Regions from separate parts of the Homo sapiens genome. Here all the other regions are linked to region 3. The links come from fine-mapping of genetic effects on gene expression. A gene starts in region 3. Each other region holds a variant in brackets. All regions are shown on one strand. Distances are from middle to middle. Region 1 overlaps MAP2K6 (mitogen-activated protein kinase kinase 6). Region 2 overlaps ABCA5 (ATP binding cassette subfamily A member 5). Region 3 holds the start of ABCA5 (ATP binding cassette subfamily A member 5).

Region 1 (8,188 bases), 140 kb after region 3:
GGCTTTTGTTATTTTATAATGTTCAGATAATCAATATGAAGCATTTTTTTACATTTTGCTTTCACGTACATATATGTATGTGTGTATATATATGTGTGTGTATATACTTATATGTATATATATATCACTATATAATAGTGAATATATGTATATTATTCACTAATATACATATATGTATGTGTATATATATGTGTATCTATAATTATATGTATATATATCACTATATAATAGTGAATATAAGTATATTATTCACTAATATACATATATGTATGTGTGTATATATATACACACATATATGCACACACACACACATATGTATATATATATACACACGCAATCTTGGCTCGCTGCAACCTCCACCTCCCACGTTCAAGCGATTCTCCTGTCTCAGCCCCCAGAGTAGCTAGCTCCCTCTCTCTCTCTCTATATATATACACACACACATATATGTATATACATACATACACATACATATATGTATATACACACACACACACATATATACACACAAATACATATATGTATATTAGTGAATCTACTTAGAAAGAATTTTATTTTGAAAATAAGCTATAACCAACAATTTGGGAGGCCGAGGTGGGTGGATCACCTGAGGTCAGGAGTTCAAGACCAGCCTGGCCAACATGATGAAACCCCATCTCTACTAAAAATACAAAAAATTAGCCAGGGATGGTGGCGTGTGCCTGTAATCCCAGCTACTCTGGGGGCTGAGACAGGAGAATCGCTTGAACCTGGGAGGCGGAGGTTGCAGCGAGCCGAGATTGCGCCACTGCACTCCAGCTATACATTGCATAGGCTCACCAGTACAACAAAACCAGTTTGTTGATTGATAAATAAATATTTAAAATATTGTATGTTTTTATTTTATTTTTTAATTTATTTACTTATTTTTTTGAGACGGAGTCTCACTCTTGCTCAGGCTGGAGTGCAGTGGTGTGATCTCAGCTCACTGCTGCCTCTGCCTCCTGGGTTCAAGCGATTTTCCTGCCTCAGCCTCCCGAGTAGCTGGGATTACAGTGTCTGGGTCTTAGGTTCCTCATCTGTCAAATGGAGACAGTAATAGTTGATTACATAATTTTCATGAAGATTAAATGAGTTATTGCACGTTTAGTATAGTGCTTTCCCCTTATAAACACTCACTACTTATTTTTATTTTTTATTTTTTACTTTTGAGACAGAGTCTTGCTCTTTTGTCCAGGCTGGAGTTCGAGTCCAGGCTGGAGTGCAGAGGCACGATTTCAGCTCACTTCAATCTCCACCTCCCAGGTTCACGTGATTCTTCTGCCTCAGCCTCTTGAGTAGCTGGGACTACAGGCGTGCGCCGCCACGCCTGGCTAATTTTTGTATTTTTAGTAAAGATGAGGTTTCACTATGTTGCCCAAGCTGGTCTCAAACTCCTGACCTCAAGTGATCCGCCCATCTCAGTCCCCCGAAGTGCTGGGATTACAGGTGTTAGCCGCCGCTACTTATTTTTGTAAGATGTCCTTTTATCTTTGATAGATTATGTACTTATTTATTTATTTGAGACAGAGTCTCGCTCTGTTGCCCCAGCTGGAGTGCAGTGGTGTGATCTCAGCTCACTGCAACCTCTGTCTCCCGGGTTCAAGCAATTCTCCTGCTTCAGCCTCCCGAGTAGCTGGGATTACAGGCACGTGCCACCACGCCCGGCTAATTTTTGTATTTTTAGTAGAGACTGGGTTTCACCATGTTGGTCTGGTTGGTCTCGAACTCCTGACCTTGTGATCCCTCCGCCTCGGCCTCCCGAAGTGCTGGGATTATAGGCGTGAGCCACTGCCCCCATCCAGACTGTGCATTTATTTAAGAGAATAAATATTGTGTTCATTTTTACAGACCCCCACAGAGCCTGATGCATAATAGCTCCTTGATAATATTTGTTGATTGAATGAATGGTAGCTATTTTAATGGTCAGAGCCACCTGGACTCATTTAAGTTGCAATCTATGCATACGAGATTGGACCATATCCAGGCAAGAATTCCAGATTCATCCTGTCCTTGTCAGTACCCTAGTTGGGTTAACTGAAATGACTGCCTGGAACACAAAGTCTTTAATAAAATGATATTACTATGCTCTATAAATCTATAAGTTACAGCCTGCCCTTATTTCCCTTATTTAAATTTTTCCTGCCCTCTTGCATTTTGTATCAAAAGCAACCTAAGTTTAATAACTTCAGCAAAGGTAAACATTTCTTCCTTTTGCTTTAAGATTCCCAGTGTATGTGTATTCAATCAGCAAATGTTTGTGAAGCGACCTACTGTACACTTGGCAGCAGGCTGAAAGACAAAAGGCCACCTCCTGATACATCCTTATTGCTGATTTTGTTAATGGTAGAGGTGACAAGGTAGGGGATGCAGAGGAGGGATGTGCCCTTCCTGGTGATGTTTTGTTTTTTTCTTTTTTTTTTTTTGAAACAAAGTTTCGCTCTTGTTGTCCAGGCTGGAATACAATGGTGCAATCTCGGCTCACTGCAACCCCTGCCTCCTGAGTTCAAGAGATTTTCCTGCCTCAGCCTCCCAAATAGCTGGGATTATAGACGTGTGCCACCATGTCCAGCTAATGTTTTGTATTTAGTAGAGATGGGATCTCACCATGTTGGCTAGGCTGGTCTCAAACTACTGACCTCAGGTGATCTGCCCGCCTTGGCCTCCCAAAGTGCTGGGATTACAGGCATGAGCCACTGCACCCAGCCCTGGTGATGCTTTTTAGTGCCTCTAATTCTTCTGAGCCTTTTCCTCCACTTCTTAGAAATATATAGACCTTTGGCTGGGTGTGGTGGCTCATGCCTGTAATCCCAGGACTTTGGGAGGCCAAGGTGGGTGGATCACCTGAGGCCAATAGTTCAAGACCAGCCTAGCCAACATGATGAGACCCCATCAGTACTTAAAAAAAAAAAAAAAAATGCAAAAATTAGCCAAGCATGGTGGCGCACAGCTGTAGTCCCAGCTACCAGCTACTCGGGAGGCTGAGGCAGGAGAATAGCTTGAAACAGGAGGCGGAGGTTGCAGTGAGCCAAGAGCAAGCCACTACTCCAGCCTGGGTGACGGAGTGAGACTGTCTCAAAAAAAAAAAAAAAGAAAAGAAAAAAAGAAATATATAGACCTCCTCTTTCCACCCCCTTCCTCTAGTAGCTTGTCCTTTATCTTCCCTTCCTCTATGGAAAAGCATATTGTAAATTAAAGAAGTCAAAAATGCAAGAGGGTATTCTGTATTTTTACTTTTACTATGATCTCCGTTTTCCCAGAAAGTGTGTAGACCCTCCTTATCATCCCTCAGCTCTATTCCTTGGCCCATTCCTTTCTGGAATTTGTTTCTCAAGCCATCGGCACTGCATCCCCTCCAGTGGTTTGAAACCGGGCAAGACTTTGCATTCCAAAGCAAAAGTGGAAATCAGATGCTCTTAGCAATCCCTGTGAATGCCGGGAAATCCCGTGGCATTTTCTTACAGAAACAGGTTATACTGGGTGGATGGGTTTAAAGC[A/G]TTATTCACAGGACTAATTGTATGACTTGGAGCAGCCTCGGTTTCCTCATCTTTCCTCATTTTTCCTCATAAAATGACTTCTACTCACTTAAGGCCTGTTCCAGGTTCAAAGATCTAGGATTCACTTATGTTATCAGTTAAATAGGCTTTTGTTGGGCTGATGGTGGAGGCTCCCCATTGAAATATTGTGTATCTGGGAAATATATGCAGAGCTAAACAATCAGATTAACGAGTGAACTTTTGATGTACCATCTGTTTATTATGGTGGTTCTACCATGAAATCTGTTGCAAAGATAATACTAACAAAGCAGAAAAGTGCATCTTAATATTTACATGGATTACAATAAGAATTGGTAATGACTCATGAACTGGTAATCTCAGCGGCTCCCATTCTATCCTTCTGGTTAATGCTTTACTTGAAGCTGAGTTTTGTTCCACTAATTATTTCTTCATACCTGCATCCTAGGCAGTAATAAAGGGGTCTCTATATAAGGCAAAGAATATGGAATTAAGTAAGCGAGGTACCATATATGAATAGGTACAAGAAGAGACTGAAACATGTTAGAATTTGTGTTTTGATACTTGTCAGGGAGAACTCCTGGGATGATGTTTTACCTAATACTTAATGATATCTGACTGCTCTGCTCTGCAGGGAGCACAGCCATGTGGTGCTCATTGGCTGATGTTTGTTAGGAAGTGGGCCATCTGTAGCCAGGAAGGCTTGAGATAATCAGGAGGGGGAAAGTGGGAGGAGAATGGATTGTATGGAGCTGTGAAATGCCATTGTGGTGAGTTTCCTTTCATTGTGTATTGATTGGGTTTTCTAGAGGACAGCTCTGGACTGAGTCTTTTTCCATTTTCACTGTTGCTAGGTTGACTGTTAAGTAATGCTTTTAGACTTCTTGGTGAGACAACTGAGAACATCCTGGAACTACCATACTATAAAAATGTTAATGTGTACATATCTATGTATAACAGTAACTCCCAAATCTCAGTTTTTATTCAGTCTTTTCCTTGAAGCTTAAGAATTGAGTAAGCAGTTGTTTGCTGGATTTCTTTTCTTAGTTTCGTGTTTTTTTTTTGTTAGAGTCTCACTCTGTCACTCAGGCTGGAGTGCAGTGGCATGTGATTTCAACTCACTGCAACAACCCAGGTTCAAGTGATTCTCCTGCCTCAGCCTCCCAAGTAGCTGGGATTACAGGCATGTGCCACCACGCCCAGCTAATTTTTGTATTTTTAGTAGAGACGAGGTTTCACCATGTTGGCCAGACTGGTCTCGAACTCCTGACCTCAAGTGATCCACCTGCCTTGGCCTCCCAAACTGCTGGAATTACAGGCATGAGCCATCACAACTGGCCTTGGATTTCTTTACCTGGTTGGTGCCTGAATCTTAACCTGTTTCAGCCCAAGTGCACCCCTTCCCGCATTCCTAGATTGCTTCTCCTGTGATAGTGTTCTCAGTTGTTACCTGCTATTTCCCTAGAAGGACCTTTAGTGTAATTCAGAGTTCCTTCTCCCCATCTCTACCATCACTAATCCAATCCAGGCCCTTCTCATCCTTCATTTGAGCCTCTGCTGTAATCTCTCAATTAGTTTTCCTGACTCCAGTTTCATCCTCTATTTGACCCACTCTCCATCTGCCACCAGAATGACTAAGGAAGTAATTCAACAACCATTTACGAGCCAATTACTCTTTTCAGGCTGGGATAACACAGCCAACGAATCACTGTTTCTGCTCTCGCAAAACTTAGTTTCTAGTACTGAAGGCCAATAAAGCTGTGTACGCAAACATAACTAATGTGTTTATAAACTGTTGCAAAGGAAACAAACCAGGATTTGAGGTGGAGGATGAAAGGGAAGGTATCCTTTGCGTAGGGTTGATGAACAAGGGCTGTCCTTGATGATGACATCGAAGCTGAGTTCGAAAAGGTGCGAAGAAACTAGAAGAGGAATGAAGGGAGCCAGGGGTGTCCAAAGGAGAGAATACAGTTATGGGTTCTTAGTTTCTGTTTCTGGTTGGGCCAGTAAAGCCCCTTCATCATCCCTCTTTTCTGCTTATCACTAGAGAGAGAAACTAAAAACCATGATTTCAGGCTGCAAAAAGCCTAAAACAAAACAAAAGAAAACAGAACAACAAAAACAACAAAAGGCGGGTTGAACAAGCAATCCAGACAGAATGAACAGTCTGTGCAAAGATGTGTAAGAGCTTATTGGTTTCAAAGAACTGAACACTAGAAGAGAGTGATTAATGCACAGAGCAATTGAACAAGTCATGGGAGATGGGATCAGAAAAATGGGCAAGAATCGTGTTACAGAGGCCCTTGTGGTCTGCAGCAGAGAGTGCAGGACCTATTTTCTAGGGGAGAATAGACCCCACTTTCTTGTAATTGTGGAAATGAGATCCCTGTTTTCTTGCTGGCTGTCAGTTGAGGACTGTCGCTAGGTTCTAGGGGCCACATGCATTCCTTGAGTTCTGTCCCCTTCCTTCATCTTAAAAGCCTGCAAGGCTGGTCAAGTTCTTCTCACATTGCATCTCTCTAACCAACCCCTCTACCTTCCTCTTCCACTTTTAAGGACTATTTTGAGCCCGCTCAAAATATCCAAGTAATCCTGATCAATCATTAACTTTAATCACATCTGCAAAGATCGTTTTGTCATGGAAGGTAACATATTCACAGAATCTGGGAAGTAGGACATGGACAGCTTTGAGAGTGGAGTGGATATTATTCTGCCTACCACAAAGGTAGAGTCAAATGAGAAAAGTATCTATAGGGGTCCAGGTGCGGTGGTGCACACCTGTAATCCCAGTGCTTTGGGAGGCCGAGGTGGGCGGATCACGAGATCAGGAGTTCAAGACCAGCCTGGCCAACACAGTGAAACCTGGTTTCTACGAAAAATACAAAAAATTAGCCAGGCATGGTGGTAGGCGCCTGTAATCCCAGCTATTTGGGAGGCTGAGGCAGGAGAATTGCTTGAACCTGGGAAGCAGAGGTTACAGGGAATGGAGATCGCTCCACTGCACCCCAGCCTGGGGGCAATGGAGTGAGACTCCATCTCAAAAAAATAAATAAGTAAATAAAGAGAAAAGTATCTTTGGGGTGGTTGATGACCTTGACAAGAGCTTTTTTGGACATATGATGGCAAAGGAGAGCCACATCATGGTCGGTGGAGCAATGAAAGCAGAAGTTAGAAAGTAGAAACAATGGGCCTGGCATGGTGGCTCATGCCTCATGCCTGTAATCCCAGAACTTTGGGAGGCTGAGGCGGGTGGATCATTTGAGTCCAGGAGTTCAAGACCAACCTGGGCAACATGGCAAAACCCCATCTCTACAAAAAAAATCCAAAACGTTAGCTGGGCATGGTGGTGTGTGCCTGTAGTCCTAGCTACTCAGGAGGCTAAGGTGGGAGGATCCCTTGAGCCCAGGAGGTAGAGTTTGCAGTGAGCCTCATCACACCATTGCACTCCAGCCTGGATAACAGAGCGAGACCCTGTTGCAGAAAGAAAACCATAAAGTAGAAACAATGTAGTGTGTAGACAACTCTTTAGATAACTTGGATTATGGCTGGAGGGGATGTGGAATGAACTGAAGCATTTTTTTAGGCAAATACAAATGATGTTTACTGATAAGAATAAACCAGGCAAAAGTAGCATGATGATGATACTCGGAGCATCACCAAGATGAGGCCCTGGAATCCTTCATCCAGGGAGGATAGATGCTTCATCCGTCAGGGAAGGGAGGAAACCCTGCAAGGAAGCACTGGAATCTTTCCCAGGACAAGAGTGGATGAATCCAGAGCCAGCAGAGAGCTTGGCCTTTGATGGGAGGGACATGCCCCCTTGTGTATAGAAGGGAAGATGGAGGATTTGGATGCTTTGTGACATTGTGATGGGAGATAAGTGAAGTGCCATCTCATGGCTTTTATTTTGTCAATGAAGTATGAAGCAGGGCATCATCTAACAGAACTGTGACCATACCAACCTTGCTTCAAACTCCTCAACGGCACTACCTGCTTACCTCTGTTTTTGTTTCCTGGTGCTGTCTGCCTAGAACTTGACACTACCTCCTCACACATTCTGCCTAGCCCTCTGGACACACCACACCTCTTTGCTTTTGATGGTGTGTTTGCTTATGGCCTTTACCAGAATGCCTTGCCTCTTCTCACTTTCCCTTTTACCGTCTCCCATCCCCACCTCCCAATGCACACTCCTTTTCCAGGAACCAGCCTTGAAACACACCCTCACCCTGGCTGTTTATAGGGGCAGAGGCCCTGGTGCTTTCATTGTGAAATTCACAGCACCTAGGACAGTACCTGCACACAGGAAGAGCTCAGTATATGTTTTTCAATATAATAACTTCATTGCAGGTAAATTAATTGATTGAGCATATATCTCAAACTATCAAAATAGGGTAGGAAAAAAATGAACTGTATTAAGCGGAAAAGAACTGTTGTTATACTCTTTGATGACTTGGTATGATTTCATTTTGCTCACTCTCAACCACCAGCTTTCAGTGGGCTCAAGCATTCAAAATGTCAACTTTACAAAGTCATGAAATCAACCTAAGCATCCATCAGTGGTTGACTGGATAAAGAAAATGTGGTGTATATATATGCCATGGAATACTATACAGCCACAGAGGAGAATGGAATTATGCCTTTTGTAGCAACATGGA
Region 2 (8,188 bases), 63 kb before region 3:
AGTTTCTTTTTGGAGTGCTGGAAATGTTCCAAAATTATGTTATGGTAATGGTTACACAGTTCTGTAAATATACTAAAAACATTTAAAATTTTTAAAAAATCAACTGACCTGAAAAAGGGATCTTTTCTTATTGATCTGCCTCCATATTTTTTCTCATAGTATTGTAAGAGGAAAATCCACAGTACACACTGCAGGTAAGGCTAAAAGAAGAACATGTAGCAGCTCATGACTAAAAGATTTGTTGTTGTTGTTGTTGTTTTTTCCTTTGCCAACAGAACTAAGACTACATACATCAAGTTCCTTGCCATTACCAAAAGAAGTAATCACAACTTTTTTATATTTTACATGATAAAGATAATTAAAAATAAATTTTAATACAAACCAAAGCAGAATTATTTTTAGCAAATTATTCACATATTTTCTGCCTCTGTATCATTCATTTATTGTCAGCTTCATAAAATATAATCGAACACAAAAACTTTGTTTTTGCTTCTAAGACAGAACTGTAATTAAACAGAATTAATAACATGTAAAAGGCTAAGTATATTAAAGTGAACATATTCAGTAAATGAAAGGTACTCCCCACTGAAATACAGATTAGCTAGCGTTAACTAACATGCTTAACTTTTTATGCACCTTCTTTTTCATGCAACAGGATAAAAAACTAAACATAGTTAAAACCATAGGACCAAACCATTCTTAAGGTACATGCTAATTCACAAAAACACTTTATTTCTTACCGATATAACAGCTACTGAAAGCCTATCCCATGGATTATAGGTGTCCACATTTTTTCGTACATTCTTCCAAGAAATCTAAGACAAAAAGATTTGAAAATATATACGCTGCAATATGTAGAAATATTTGGATTAAAATGAAAAAATGTATTTTGTTTAGCAAACGTGTACTTTCTATAATAAGTTAGCTGTTCATATTAGTAAGTTATGTTTTTTACTTAAAATCTTCCCTGTCCCAAAATATTTCTGAGGATCAGTATAAATTAAACACATTGAACTGAGACCTAAAAAGGGAAGCAGGGGTAGTAGGATTAGTAAGTAGAATTAATTAGCAATTCCAAACCAAGAATTCATAACAATATTTTTTCTAATCACATGGAAATTTCTTTCAATTATCCAGCCTTAATAAAATCAATCTGGTTTTTGTCTCTATTTTTTCTTGGAGAAAATCTCTTACACTTTATTCTTTCTCATCCCTTTATAGTGAAATACGTTATTTAATCACTGATAAACTCCTAAAAACAAATACTGACTGAAACCATGTCACACTTCTAATTATATACATCATTTTGAGCATGAGAGAACCTGTAATGAACATAGCCCTTTTCCTTTGAGAATTTACAGTTTGACAAGAGCTCACAATAATTTATGCTGCATTAATAATATCTAAATCAAGTAGTAGCCATTAGCCCAATGCATTTTACTGTTTTCTATACAAGAACTAACATCCCCAAATTAGACCATATTTATTTTATGTTTTTTAACATATTAAAATATTTAGCAGAATTACCTTTATGAAAGAAATCAGGCAACCTAGAAGTGGATAGATTGGAATGATGATACAAAAGGCATAATGAAGAATAGTTGCAATTGTGTATCCCATAAAGAAAGTTATTTCAGTGATTGCAATACAAGCCAACGCTGCCTAAAGAAAAAAATAAATAAATAAAAGTGACAAAGTGTTTAGAAACTTCTTACAAATTGGTGTCTACGCATTAAACTATTTTTTCAATCCTCTAATAAAACATGGAACAAGAGATGATATTTAGCCAGCAAGCAACAAGAATACCACTTGTTTGTAGCTAGTATCCTTGATACACTAGTTGCTAAATCTCTTCCATATTGTTCCTACGTGGAAAGGATGATTCAGAAGACAAATGTACACACAAAAAGAAGCTGCCAATTACCTATCTAAATTATTCACTTACAAAAGACATGTAACATTTTTAGTATAATCAGGAAAGAATTCATGTTAATTAAACTGCTATGGAAAGTTGAAATAATGTAAAATGTGACTTACCACAGAATAGATAAATGACCAAAATTCTTTGGTATTTAAAATTTTCTTAAAGGTGAAAGAAGCAATATAAGTGAACAGAATAACTGATGGAACATAACCAATAAGGCAAAAAACCTGTAAATCAGAAATATGTTTCTATAAAAATATGAATAGCTTGCAATACACATGACATGAAATACTAGCCATATTAAAATATGAAATTATTAATATAATCCTAAATAAATCATTTAAACTGAACACTACTTGTAGTTTTTTGTACCAAGTAAAATACTATCTCTCATTATTATAAAAAGCAAGTATAGCTAGCTACAACGTTCTCTCTCTCAAATATTAGCTACTATTTTAATATACAGCACTTTATTTTTTAATGTGTAAGAAAAACATTATTATTTTATATGGCAGAAACTAATATATAAGGTCATTATGATCTCTGACAAAATCGGTAAATTTACTTTCAGCATCAACCTCATGTAACTCTGTTTTCCCTTTTTCCTAATAAAGTAATCAATGAAAGGGCCTGCTGTCAGTCATTTACATGTGAACATGAATGCAAATCAGTCTCTTCTTTGATATTTTAAGCTATATTTTATTTTAAGTAATTTCTAGTTTTACTTTAGAATCAGGGGATACATGTGCAGGTGTGTTACATGGGTATACTGCATGATGCTGAGGTTTGGGGTATAATTCATTCTGTCACCTAGGTACTGGACACAGTACCTAACAGTTAGTTTTTCAACCCTTGCTCCCCTTCCTCCTGCCCCCGTCTAGTAGTGCCCAGTGTCTACTGTTGCCATTTTTATGTCCATGTTTACCCAATTTAGCTCCCATTTATAAGTGGGAACATGCAATAGTTGGTTTTCTGTTCCTTTGTTAATTCACTTAGAATAATGGCCTCCAACTGCACCTGTGCTGCTGCAACAGACATAATTTCATTCTTTTTTATGGCTGCTCAGTATTCCGTGGTGTATATGTACCACACTTTCTTTATTCAATCACTGGTCAATGGGCTCCTAGGTTGATTCCATGTCTTTGCTATTGTGAATAGTGCTGCAATGAACATACTCATGTGTCTTTTTGGTAGAATGATTTATTTTCTTTTGGATATATACCCAGTAATGGGGTTTCTGAGTTATAAGGTAGTTCTGTTTTAAGTTTTTTGAGAACTCTCCAAACTGCTTTCCATGGCTGCTGAAGTTTACATTCCCACCAAGAGTATATAAGAGTATATAAGCATTTCATTTTCTCTGCAGCCTCGCCAGCATCTGTTGGTTTTGACTTTTTAATCATAGCCATTCTAACTGACATGAGATGGTATCTTACTGTGGTTTTGATTTACATTTCTCTGATGATTAGTGATGTAGAGCATTTTTTCATACATTTGTTGTCCATTTGCATGTCTTCTTTTGAGAAGTGTCTGTTCATATCTTTTGCCCACTTTTTAATGGAGTTTTGTTTTTTGATTGCTGAATTGTTTAAGTGCCTTATAGATTCTGGATACTTGGCCTTTGTTGGATGCATAGTTTGTATTTTCTCCCATTCTGTATGTTATCCATTTACTCTGTTGATAGTTTCTTTTGCTGTGCAGAAGCTCTTTAGTTTAATTAGGTGCCACTTGTCAATTTTTATTTCTGTTGCAATTGCTTTTGAAGACTTATTTACCCATAAATTCTTTCCCAAGGTCCAGAATGGTATTTCCTATGTTTTCTTGTAGAATTCTTATAGTTGATGTCTTACCCTTAAATCTTTAATCCATCTTGAGTTACTTTTTACATACGGTGAAAGGTGGAGGTCCAATTTCATTCTTCTGAATATGGCTAGCCAGCTATCCCAGCACCATTTATTGAACACAGAGTCCTTTCCTATTGCTTATTTTTATCAATTTTGTTGAAGATCAGATGGCTATAGATGTGTGGCTTTATTTCTGGGTCCTCCATTCTGTTTCATCGGTCTACATGTCTGTTTTTGTACCAATACCATGCTGTTTTGGTCACTGGAGCCTTTATAGTATAGTTTGAAGTCAGGTAATGAAATGCCTCTGGCTTTGTTCTTTTTACATGGATTCCTTTTTTTTTTTTTTTTTGATAAAAAGTCTCTCTCTGTTGCCCAGGCTTGAGTGCAGTAGCACGATCTTGGCTCAACACAACCTCTACCTCCCCGGTTCAAGCGATTCTCCTGCCTCAGCCTCCTGAGTAGCTGGGACTACAGGCGCATGCCACCACGTCCAGCTATTTTTTTGTATTTCTAGTAGAGATGGTGTTTCACTATGTTGACCAGGATGGTCTTGATCTCTTGACCTCGTGATCCACCCGTCTCGGTCTCCCAGAG[T/C]GCTGGGATTATAGGCATGAGCCCCCGCGCCCAGCTTATGTAGGATTCCTTTAGCCATCTGGGTACTTTTGGGGTTCCATATGAATTTTAGAATAGCTTTTTAAAATTCTGTGATGAATAATGTTGGTAGTTTGATAGGAATAGTGTTGAATCTGTAGATTGCTTTGGGCAGTATGGCCACTTTAATATATTGAGTCTTCTAATCCATGAGCATGAAATTTTTTTCCATTTGCTTGTATCATCTCTGAATTCCTTCACCAATGTTTTGTAGTTCTCCCTGTAGAGATCTTTCATCTCCTCTGTTAGATGTATTCCTAGGTATTTTAATTTTTTGTGGCTATTGTAAATGGAGTTGTGTTCTTCATCTGGCTCGCAGCCTGCCCATTATTGAGATAGAGAAATGTTAAGCTATATTTTAAACTATGGAATAAAAGAGCTTATCCTTTGTGAAATTATTTTCAGGCATAAGAAAAACGAAGGAAGGCATTTTAAGGAAGGAATATATTAAAACGTTCCTGATTACACCCAAGTAGGTGGTCTACATGAAAGATCACTTTAGTTTCAAGAAATTATTTTAAAATGGTGGTAAGTTATTGTTTTTAAAAGTCACTTATCATATAAAATGATTACATGTATTAAATACCAGACACACTTGCTCTATTTTCTTTAACAAATTAATAACCAAATTATGCAATAAGTCAACTGTCATGTTTATAACAGATTTTAAATAACATTCTATCTATAAATAGCATGAGTACAACTAACGTTAACTTACCACAGCAAGGAACTTTACAGTATAAAAATATAATCCATAATGAAATGCCAATAAGCTTCCTAGCATCAAAATAAGAATGATAAAAAATAAGGGGATATCAACAACAGCTTGTCCAATCCAATATGCAGATGGCAAAAGACCTGAAAGTTTAAGTTGAGTATAAGCTTTGATCTAAAAAAAATGAAAAACAATTTATTATAATTTTAGACACTTTAGAAACACACAAATAAATTAGTAAATTATTGTAGATCTCTTAATTTTACATCAGCAAAACCAAAAAGGTTACATTCCAGGCTTATAGGTAATAAAAGTCCCCCTCACACTAAATACAAATTCCATTTAGCCTTTAATTTGGCTCATTATTTCTGAGATGTAACAATTTCAACAAAATTTTTAAGAATCAGAATACAGTAGTGCTGCCAAGAAACTGAGATTAAAATAAAGCAAAAGGTGTCATGGCGGTTGGGGTTACAGCTATACAAATAATAAATAGCCAAAACATTACTACTTTTGAAATACTGTGGAAACAGATGGGAAGACATGTTTACACAGAAAAAGAATTCTCAGTTTTAAAAATGAACCTTTCATAAATAAAAACACTAATAAATTGCCAAGTATCCTTTGGATTTACATAAGGCTTTCAGCTTAAGTGAAAGCTTTTGAAATGTTCAAAGCCTTTTGTGTACACTGGTATAGCATATAAATCTAAGGTGTTATTTACGTCACAAGTTTGTTAATGGTAAACTCAAATGATCATAGTTTTCCTATCTCATGTTCTCATTTAATTTGAAATTTCTAAAATATTTCATAAATCCAAATACCTAACAATTTTATTTAGTTGATTTTTGTCATCTATAAAAATATCTACTCCTAATAACTGAAGGTATTATATGAAAGAGCTGTCCACAGAGATAAAGGAAGCATGAAATATAAAGATTAGTTAAGAAGAGGAGAAATGAACAAAATTGGCAAGTTTTCTGTTCAATGAATTATGAGAACATGAGACACATGTAAATTCTAATACAAGAATAAAAACATAAGCTAAGGCAAATGCAATTATTTTGGATAATTCAAACTTTTGTCATTCACACACTGCTGGTAGGGATAACATAAAATGGAACACTCATCTTGGAAAATAATTTGGCAATTTCTTATAAAATTAACATGTATAATTCAGCAATTGCACTCTTGGGCATTTATCTCAGAGAAATGAAAATGATGTTTACACAAAACCTGTATGCAAATGTCCACAGCAACTTTACAAAAGCCAAAAACGGAAAACAATCCAAATGTTCTTCAACAGGCAAATGGTTAGAGAAAGTGTGATGTATCCATACCATGGAATATTACTCAGCAATGAAAAGGAATGGATTATTGATAAATACAAATAGGATGAACTTCAAAAAAAATGCTATTTGAAAAAAGCCAATCCCAAAAGAAAACTTATTGTGATGCCATTTTACATTTTTGAACTATCAAAATTACAGAAATAGAGAACAGAGTAGTGGTTGCCACAGGTCAGAGAGGCTAGGAAAGAGCAAAAAATGGGAATCTTTTTGGTGACAGAAATGTTCTGTATCTTGACTGTGTCAATGCCAATACCCTGTTACATTGTACTATAATTTTACGAGATGTTATTATTGGGACAAAATGTAAAGAGTACACAGGATCTCTCTGTCATTTCTAACAAACAAACATGAATATACAACTATCTCAAAATAGAAACTTTAATTAAAAATAAGTTAGTGGGTGCAGTGCACCAGCATGGCACATGTATACATATGTAACTAACCTGCACAATGTGCACATGTACCCTAAAACTTAAAGTATAATAAAAATATATATATATATAAATAAAAAAATTAAAAAATAAATAAATAAAAATAAAAAATTTATATTGGAAAAAAAATGTTTCAGTTGAAACAAGAAAGAAAATGCAAATGTCCAGTAAATTTTATTATTGTGCAGTGGGTTATGGATTTCTATATTCCTTATACTTTTCTATAATTTATACATTACTACAATGAGTATATTTAACAAAAATTGAATATTATTTTAAAAATAGAGATATGTGTTACTTTTATAGTAAACAAATAACAAAATTTTTATTAGAATGTATTTATTTATTTTATTTATTTATTTATTTATTTATTTTTGAGATGGAGTTTTTGCTCTTGTTGCCCAGGCTGGAGTGCAATGGCATGATCTCGGCTCACTGCAATCTCCGCCTCTCGGGTTCAAGTGATTCTCCTGCCTCACCCTCCTGAGTAGCTGGGATTACAGGCATGCACCACCACGCCCTAATTTTTTTTCTATTTTTAGTAGAGACGGGGTTTCTCCATGTTGGTCAGGCTAGTCTCGAACTCCCAACCTCAGGTGATCCGCCCACCTCGGCCTCCCAAAGTGCTGGGATTACAGGCGTGGTCCACCACGCCTGGCCTACAATTTATTTTTTTAGAATTTATTAAAATAATGAGCTCATTATTCATCACAGTCTGTAAATTAATTTAGACAAATTTGTTTTTACTGAATTAAGATCATCCATGAAGAAGATCAGAATTTTTATTAGAGCAGTAAGATATAATCTCAGCAGAGTGAAAAAGTGGGAGGCTTTGAACAACCAAAGACTGTACAAGATCGCTATATGCCTGAAGGAAAACAAAAGGGAAAGGCGTAAAAAGAAAGTGAAAGAATACCAAAGAACCTCTGTATACTTAGCAATTTCTCCAAGGCCCTAATGATGACAATCACTTTCATCTATTTTTTTTCCATTAATAAGAATTTAGCACCTTGACTACTTAATACCTCTGTTAAAGGATAAAAGGGACGGGCATGTTAGTTTGCCAGTTAAGAACATAAAGATCACAGTCACTTCCCAAATCCACAATTTAAACAAGTTGAGTCAACCTGAGCAAGTCATATGAACAATCCCATCTTTGATTTCCTGATCTATAAGAAATCAGTAACAAAAAACTTACCTCACAATGTTGTGAGAATTAGAGAATATAATTTTTAAAGCATGTAGCAAGTCTCAAATAATAAATATTAATT
Region 3 (8,188 bases):
TATCCCGGCCAACATGGTGAAACCCTGTCTCTACTAAAAATACAAAAATTAGCTGGGTGTGGTGGCGGGCACCTGTAATCCCAGCTACTCAGGAGGCTGAGGCAGGAGAATCACTCGAACCCGGGAGGTGAAAGTTGCAGTCAGCTGACACTGTGCCAATCCAGCCTGGCAACAGAGCAAGATTCCGTCTCAAAAAAAAAAAAAAAAAAAAAAAAGTGCTGGTTACTACGTTCCAAGTCCTACGAAACATATTCCACATCACTAAAAGTAATAAAAATGTACATAACCTTTAGAAATAATTGTTAGAGAAAAATTATTTAGGATGCATGAATTTAATTAATTAAAATAAGAAATTTGAAAGCTATAAAGTATTTTTTAAAATCTAAGGTAGTTCTACTATTATACCTACTGCCTTTGTTAAAAGCAGTGCTTTCCTTAGAAGAGCCTCTCTCTTCCCCCACCTCCCCCGCAAAATCCATCACTTATCTAATGATACCATTATCTCCTTCAAATATTTTCAGCTAGTAAAACAACTCACTGCACAGCAGAGGAGGTACTAAATACCTGTGGAATAAACAATCCATTTATTATGTAGCAGGTAAAATAACTTTAAATTTTTTAAATTATTTTCATAGAGACCTGATTAAAAACATATCCATGTTTATTTCTGTGAGAAACAAATTAAGATTATACCCTATAAAATAAATAAGTTGAGTCATCCTGATGTTTAGAGCCATCCTGATAAGAAACGTGGTCACCTTCTTAGCATCCTTAAAAGATTTCCAGAAAGGCTAGCTGAAAATACATTCCCTACCTCCAACAAATGACTGTTAGAGGTTACTTCTCATCCACCTAAGCAGATGTAACAGAAAATGGATAGTCTGTCTACTTGGGGCTTCTAAACGTTGTTCGGCACTGAAGGTTGACTTTGGAGACTGGGTCATGAAGCTTGACCTCTTAATTACTGACCTTTTGTTATACATGAAATTCCTTCCTTATTTTCTTGTTCCTAGATCACACCAGATGATGCCAGGGATAAAAGACCGCTGACTGTGATAAAAGACCCTTTGACCATTACATCCTTAATGTGAAATGTTAAATATACCCTTCCCCCAAAAAGAAACACTGCCTATAACTAATTGAATTGCTCTAACTATGCACTAACCTCGTACGAAAAATGATGTAACCCTGTTAAGCATCCCCAGGCCTTGCCTATGTAAAGGACCCTCAAACCTCTCCACTTTGGAGCATTTACCTCATCCTTCAGGAGTCTGTGTCCTCCTGTGTGACCATCCTCAAGTTTTATGCTCAAATAAACTCAATTTTTAATCATATTGCCTAAATGTCATTATTAACATTGACATGGAGCTGATTATCACTCCTTTGTTTTACCTCTATACCCAGTAAACATAACTGTAACTGCAGTAACTATACCCTGTCACCATTATTTATTTATATATTTTCATCTTGAACTTGACCATGAGATCCTTGATGAAAAAAACAACAGTCTTATTTATCTTTGTTTCTCCACCACCAATGGAAATATTAAACCCAGTATCATCTTACCACAGATTCCTTTATCAAGGCTTCCTGAGAGTCCTTAAAGATCAAGGATGTGCAAACTATGATGAAAGAGGTGGGGGCTAAATCCAACCCTCAGTCTGTTTGGCACAGCCCATGAGGAACACTGCTTCTGCATTTTTAAAAGGTTGAAAAATAATAATAATATCTTGTGACATGCAAAAATTATATGAAATTCAAATTTCAGTGTCTATAAATACAGTGTTATTGGAACACAGCCATGCTCATTCATTTATGTATTATCTATGACTGCTTTTGTGCTACAACAGTAAAGTTATTGAGACAGAGACCATACTGTCTGCAAACCTAAAATATTTACTATCTGGCACTTTACAAAAAACGTTGGTCAACTCCTGTAAAAAGGAAGAAGAGGGGAAGTGAGAAAAGTGGCATATTCACTTAACATTTACTGAAGGATTTATGCATCCAACATTATGAGGCAAAAAAAATAAAGTTAGACACTGTCACTAACTTTGCAGAGAGATAAAATTTAATATAATGTGATAAGAGAGAAAGAGCCTGGAAAGGAGTGGAATGGAATTTCCAGGCAGAAAGAAAAGAATGGTAAAGCTAGACTCCCAAACAAAAGGGCTTGACTTTTGTGAAGAACAGGGATACCTGCCATATGGCAGAGGCATAAGGCAAAGTGAACCGGAGCAAGGGGTGCAGATGTATGTTCTAGATAACACGGTAAAGGCAGGCATTGGGAATGGATTATGAAGTTTCTGGTATCCAAAATTAGACACCCTAATTTGTGCACTCATATCTTTCCTCTACTGTACTTTTCACAACTGTGAGTCATGTTTAATTTCCTAGCAATCACATATTCCACTAGTCCATCACTTTCCCAATCCCCAAATCTCCAAAGCTTCCATCTGTAGGATCACCCTCAGATTATGACCTTGAATCCTACTTTACTGAGAAAACTGAAGCAATTAAAAGAGATTTCCAAAATCCACCACAAAGTAATGTTATACATTTCAACAATGTGCCATTTCAGCCTAAACTGAAGACTGATTTCATTACAACTCTGAAACACAAGAAATTAAATGCAATCTGGTATTAGCTACACTTTTAAACTAAGATATTTTTGGAATGAGAAATTAGGAACATATCTGGCACATGAAACAAACTCCTGCCTAGCTACATCATTTGCTTCTCAATCAATGAAATAAAAGCACTACAAAATATGCCTTTTAGCTTAAAAAGGGATAAATTATAAATGCTCTCATCTTCTTTATTGCTTTAAAATTTACTGTAAGGTGGTGCAATAATAAAACAAAATGCAGTCAGGTGCAGTGGCTCACGTGGCAATCCCAGTGGGAGGAAGGCTTGAGCCCAAGAGTTCAAGATCAACCTGGGCAACATAGAGAGACACTGTCTCTACCAAAAAAAAAAAAAAAAAAATAGCCAGGCGTAGGGGCACACAACTGTGGTCCCAGCTACTTGGGAGGCTGAGGTGGGAGGATCACTTGAGCCTGCGAAGTCAAGGCTGCAGTGAGCCAAGATCCTGCCACTGCACTTCATCCTGGGTGACAGAATGAGACCCTGTCTCAAAAAAAAAAAAATGCTAGTTGTCAATATAATTTAACCTAAATTTTATCACAGTGTTTCTTGCTGAGGGAGAAAATAACAATGCAATGGTACACAGAGGACAAGTCATCCAATAAATTTTCTTATGCATAATAGGTCCTTAAAAGCTTGCCCTTAAAACTATTTTTAATCCAACTAATTTACATACTAGAAAAGTTATGACTTAGTACAATATCATAAAATTCTTTTATGCAATCACCCTCTCAACTAAACTCAAGGACAGAGATTATAAATTGTATTCATATCGGTACTCTTGGCACATAGTATGGTATCTGGAATGTAAAAGACATGCAACAAACCAGCCTGGGCAATATAGCAAGACTTCGTCTCTGAAAAACAAATAAAAAATTACCTGGGCGCAGTGACACACGCCTGTAGCCCCAGCTATTCAGCAGGGTCCCTAGAGTCCAGACGTTCAAGGCTGCAGTGAACTTTGATCGCACCACTGCACTCTAGCCCGAGACGCTGTCTCTTTAAAAATAAAAGACATGCAATACACATGGAATGTACTAATAAATTTGCTCTTATAGTGAATGTAAGATTTCCCTACACTAAATCTGTTTGAAAGGAAATATACTCAAACAGCACATATGCAAAGATTAACGCCTCTTTAGTTTGATTTTAACACAAATACCCACAAAGCCCTAACTGCCCTAATAATGTTCCCTACTATGGAGTCTTCCCTAAAACACATACAATATTGCTCTCCCGGCAAACACAAAATATACTAAATAAAGCACCAGAATTAGGGTCTGGCAGCCCGGGTTGGAATCTCAACTCCATCCTTTTACTAGCTGAGACCTTAATAAGTTACTTAACCTCTTTGAGGCCCATTCTCCACACCTGCCCAACTGGAATAACCCCCTCCAATCCTACAGGGTTGCTGTCAGAATGAAAAGAGCTAATACCGAGCCTGGCTTAAAGCTGTAGTCCAGCAAATACTCCTCTTCCCTTAGATTCCTTCAGAACGCCCTTGTAGAAAGTAAACGTGGTTATTATCTTCATTATTTTCGGACTTATTTATTTAAAACGTAAATCGAAGCCTGAGGAGCCCAGGGGAAAACCTCCTTCAGCTTAATAGCTCCAGCCTGCCCAGCTTTCCGATCCAATTAAGTATTTCCATGCCTGGAGCTCCTATTCGTGTTTTAGGATCAGGGAATTTCCCTCCCAAACTGTGTCATGAGATCTGCGCATTTTCTTCTCACTGAAACTCCTTTTAACACGCAAGGTAATGATCCGCGCGTAACCTCGCAGGGAAGAGCAAGCGCTCATTACCCAGCTGTTCAGACGGAAATTTACATCAATATTTGTTTTCCTTCTTTCCCTGAGGTTGCTGAGGGTGGAACGACAGCGTCCAGGCAAAGGCAGTGTCCCGAAGTCCCACGGCCGGACCCGGTCCCAGGGGAGCCTCGCGGAGCCCCCGCCGCAGGGCCCCGACCCCCTCACGTCCGCATCCTGGGCGCTCCCACCGCATCCCCGAGGCTGGCAACCCGCGCTTCCCGGGAGCTGAGGGAGGTCTGTTTCCCTCAGCTCGCCGCCTCTGCCCGCTTCCGAGCCCGCTTCACCCCACACCTCAGACGCCGAACTCCCCTTCTCTCCCCGCCGTCCCTCGCTGGCCAGCCCCTCCTCGTCCCCTCAACTCCCCCAGGGACGGCTGTCCCAGGCTAGCCTCAAGCGCCGCCGCCGCCCGCGACGCCCGCCTCACCTCAGGGCCCGAGCCGCAGAGCTGTCAGGCCTGGACGCGCTCAGTCTGTTGACTCAGTGCGGGTGACCCAGCTGGGATCTGTGCGAGGGCGCGGCCGCGCGCACCCGCGCGCTCCTGGCGCAGGCAGAGCTGGCGGCGCCGAAGTCGCGCCCCGCCTCCTGCAGAGCGCACCTGAGGGCGGGGCTCCTAGAAAGCGCCGCTCCGCGTACGGGCGCGCTTCAGACGCTCGGCCCCGCGCGTCCCGGCGCACGCAGGCAAGCAGCGCGCCCGGAAGAGGAGAGCGGCTGAGGGTGGGGCGAGCGGTGGCGCGCCGCTGCCCAGGGCCCCTGAGCCACTAGAGTCGGGCCTCGTGGCTCTTCCCCAGGGCCTCCCACGCCTGGGTTCTGCGGGGATCTCGCCACGCTCTTTCTGGAGGCACGGGCAAAAACCACGGCCTCGTGTCTCAGTGGTAAACCTGCCGCCTCTTAGCGGGTGACCTTGGCCCACGGCCCTCTCCTCATCTGCCTCGCCCAGTCACGTCTCCTCTTAAGCATCCTTGCCGTCTGTCTCCTGGCATTTGGATGGGCCTCTCTGAACGCGTTTTGAGTCCTCTGCAGCCCCGCTTCCTCCCGCCGCGGCATCTGGAGTGCTGTGGCCCCGTTTCCGTAACTCTTGCCTCCCCTCCCCAGCCTCCTCATTGGCCCTCACACCCCGACCTGGGAGGTCCTCCCACTGAGGGTGCTTGTAGTTCGCGGAGTGTCCTCATCAAAGACTGGGAATGCGGCAGATGCTGAATTTTCCAAACGGCCTGAGACACATGACATCTGTGAGAGACTGGATACTGCACTTACTTTGCTAAAAATATAATCTAGTGTTTTGAGCTTCATTACTCAAAGTGACCTAAATGGGGTCAAAAGTTATTAACACTAACATTACGTATTTTCCTCTCCACATTTCTGTATAGTCACATTCCCTTGCACAAAGACTTTTTTTTTATTCTGTCAATCCTGTGTACATCATGTTTTTTTTTTTTACTTGTCTTTGTGTTATCTGCTTCTCGAATTTAAACCAGGTCTCCCCAACATGCACTCTGCTTTCTAAATTCTTAGGGGAAAAACAAACAAACAAGGAATCAAGTTTTACTTATGGAATATGAATTAAATAGAAAATTCAAAGAGGTTCGTCAGAATCCTTGATGATTAAAACAGCGGTCCCCAACCTTTTGGGCACCAGGGACCAGTTTCATGGAAGACAGTTTTTTCTGGGGGAGGGAGGATGGTTTGGGGATGATTCAAGCACATTATATTTACTGTGCACTTTATTTCTACTGTTACTACACTGTAATATGTAATGAAATAATTATACAACTCACCATAATGTAGAATCAGTGGGAGCCATGAGCTTGTTTTCTTGCAACTAGACAGTCTCATCTGGGGGTGATGGGAGACAGTGACAGATCATCAGGCATTAGATTCTCATAAGGAGCACGCAACCTAAATCCCTCACATGCGCAGTTCACAATAGGGTTCTCGCTCCTATCACAATCTAATGCCACTGCTGATCTGACAGGAAACGGAGTTCAGGCCCTAATGCCAGCCATGGGGGGCCCCTGTAAATACAGATAAAGCTGCACTCACTTGCCCTCCGCTCACCTCCTGCTGTGCTGCTTGGTTCCTCGCAGGCCACAGATCCCGGTAGCAGTCTCTGGCCTGGGGATTGGGGACCCCTGGATTAAAAGATCTAGCAATGGGGATGGGGGAAAGGGAGATAAGTATATTCAAAAAACTACACCAGGAAACTAAAGAAGGCATGTAATGAAAACTATCCCTGATATATTCTGTCTCTTTTGGAAACATCTAGAACATTTTAGTTACAAATTCTCAATGGCCTAGGATTTGGGGCCAAGTAAAGAAATATACATGAAAGATAAACTTGGTTAACATGTTACTGAACCATACTTTCACCCCAACACTTCTCACTAGTAGCCTTAACCTGCCTTAACTTCAGAAGTCTACTCATTTCTACTACTATTCTAGGCATTTATTTCTTACATTTCTTATCCTTGTAATGTTCTCTGTCATTCATTCTGTCTGCTCATGCTTTTACTCTTGTTTCTAAATGACATGACCAAAACCCAATTCTCCAAAAATCTCATCACCCTGGACAAAATGATCTCACTCTCCTCCCAATTGCCTACATACTACCATCTTGTTCACATCATTTTATTTACTTACCATCTCTTCAATTAAATTGTAAATAGTCTTAGGTTAAGAGCTTTTTCTTGACTTGTCTTTTTCTTTTCTTTTCTTTCTTTCTTTATTTTTGTGACAAAGTTTTGCTCTGTCACCCAGGCTGGAGTGCAGTGCCATGATCACAGCTCACTGCAACCTCTACCTCCCAGGTCCAAGTGATCCTTCCATCTCAGCCTCCTAAGTAGCTGGGACTACAGGTGCATGCCACCACACAGGCTAGTTTTTGTATTTTGTTGTAGAGACAGGGTTTTTCCATGTTGCCTAGGCTGGTATCAAGCTCCTGGGCTCAAGTGATTCTCTGTCCTTGGCCTCCAAAAGTACTGGGATTACGGGCCTGAGCCATAGCACCCAGGCGAAAGCTTCTTCTTATACCGATTTAAATTTCCAAGTCCTATGCATCATAGTATACAGTAAATATTATTAATGCTTCCAATGAGAAAACACATATAATAAGCAAGAATATTCAAATATTTTCATTTCCCCCACAAAATGTCACCACCCACTCAACAAGGGCTACCTACTCATAAAAGGGAAGATATCAAATTCCCCTTATAGGATGAATGACAAAATTATGATGGTGATATTGTTTGGCTCTGTGTCTCCAACCAAATCTCACCTTTAATTGTAATACTTCCCACATGTCAAAGGTGACCAGGAGGAGACAATTGAATCCTGGGGACAGTTTTCCCCATGCTGTTCTCATGATAGAGGGTGAGTTCTTACAAGATCTGATGGTTTTATAAGGGGCTTCCCCCTTCACTCGGCACTCATTCTCTCTCCTGCTGCCCTGTGAAGAGGTGCCTTCTACCATGATTGTAAGTTTCCTGAGGCTTCCCTCACCATGTGAAACTGTGAGTCAATTAAACCTCTTTTCTTTATAAATTCCCTAATCTTGGGTATGTACTTATAGCTGCCTGAGAACAGACTAATACAGATGTAATGCAGTTGTAAGAATAATTTAACAGAGGGAATACTAAATAAGACCTATTAATAAAAAGATTGCCACAAATTGATGTATGGACCCTGACATATTTTACTGTCTGTTTGAACAGGTTATTTATCAAACTATTTGTACCTT

What was found.
Region 1: its variant is fine-mapped to the expression of ABCA5 in pancreas (GTEx, PIP 0.97).
Region 2: its variant is fine-mapped to the expression of ABCA5 in whole blood (TOPMed, PIP above 0.99).

The regions. Positions count from the first base shown.
Region 1 is chr17:69,463,193-69,471,380 of GRCh38, forward strand. All of the region lies in intron 1 of MAP2K6 (mitogen-activated protein kinase kinase 6), which reads left to right. Among named protein-coding and RNA genes, the nearest start is that of MAP2K6-AS1, 18 kb to the right of the region's middle. The variant A/G (reference allele first, on the strand shown) is at 3,516.
Region 2 is chr17:69,259,598-69,267,785 of GRCh38, forward strand. It overlaps ABCA5 (ATP binding cassette subfamily A member 5), which reads right to left. Exons shown (of 39, transcript NM_172232.4): 24 at 5,138-5,308; 25 at 2,038-2,151; 26 at 1,528-1,662; 27 at 741-815; 28 at 109-200. Among named protein-coding and RNA genes, the nearest start is that of PRO1804, 29 kb to the left of the region's middle. The variant T/C (reference allele first, on the strand shown) is at 4,363.
Region 3 is chr17:69,322,173-69,330,360 of GRCh38, forward strand. ABCA5 (ATP binding cassette subfamily A member 5) reads right to left here and starts at 4,961. Exons shown (of 39, transcript NM_172232.4): 1 at 4,880-4,961. RefSeq lists silencers at 4,648-4,737, 4,868-5,247 and an enhancer at 5,328-5,467.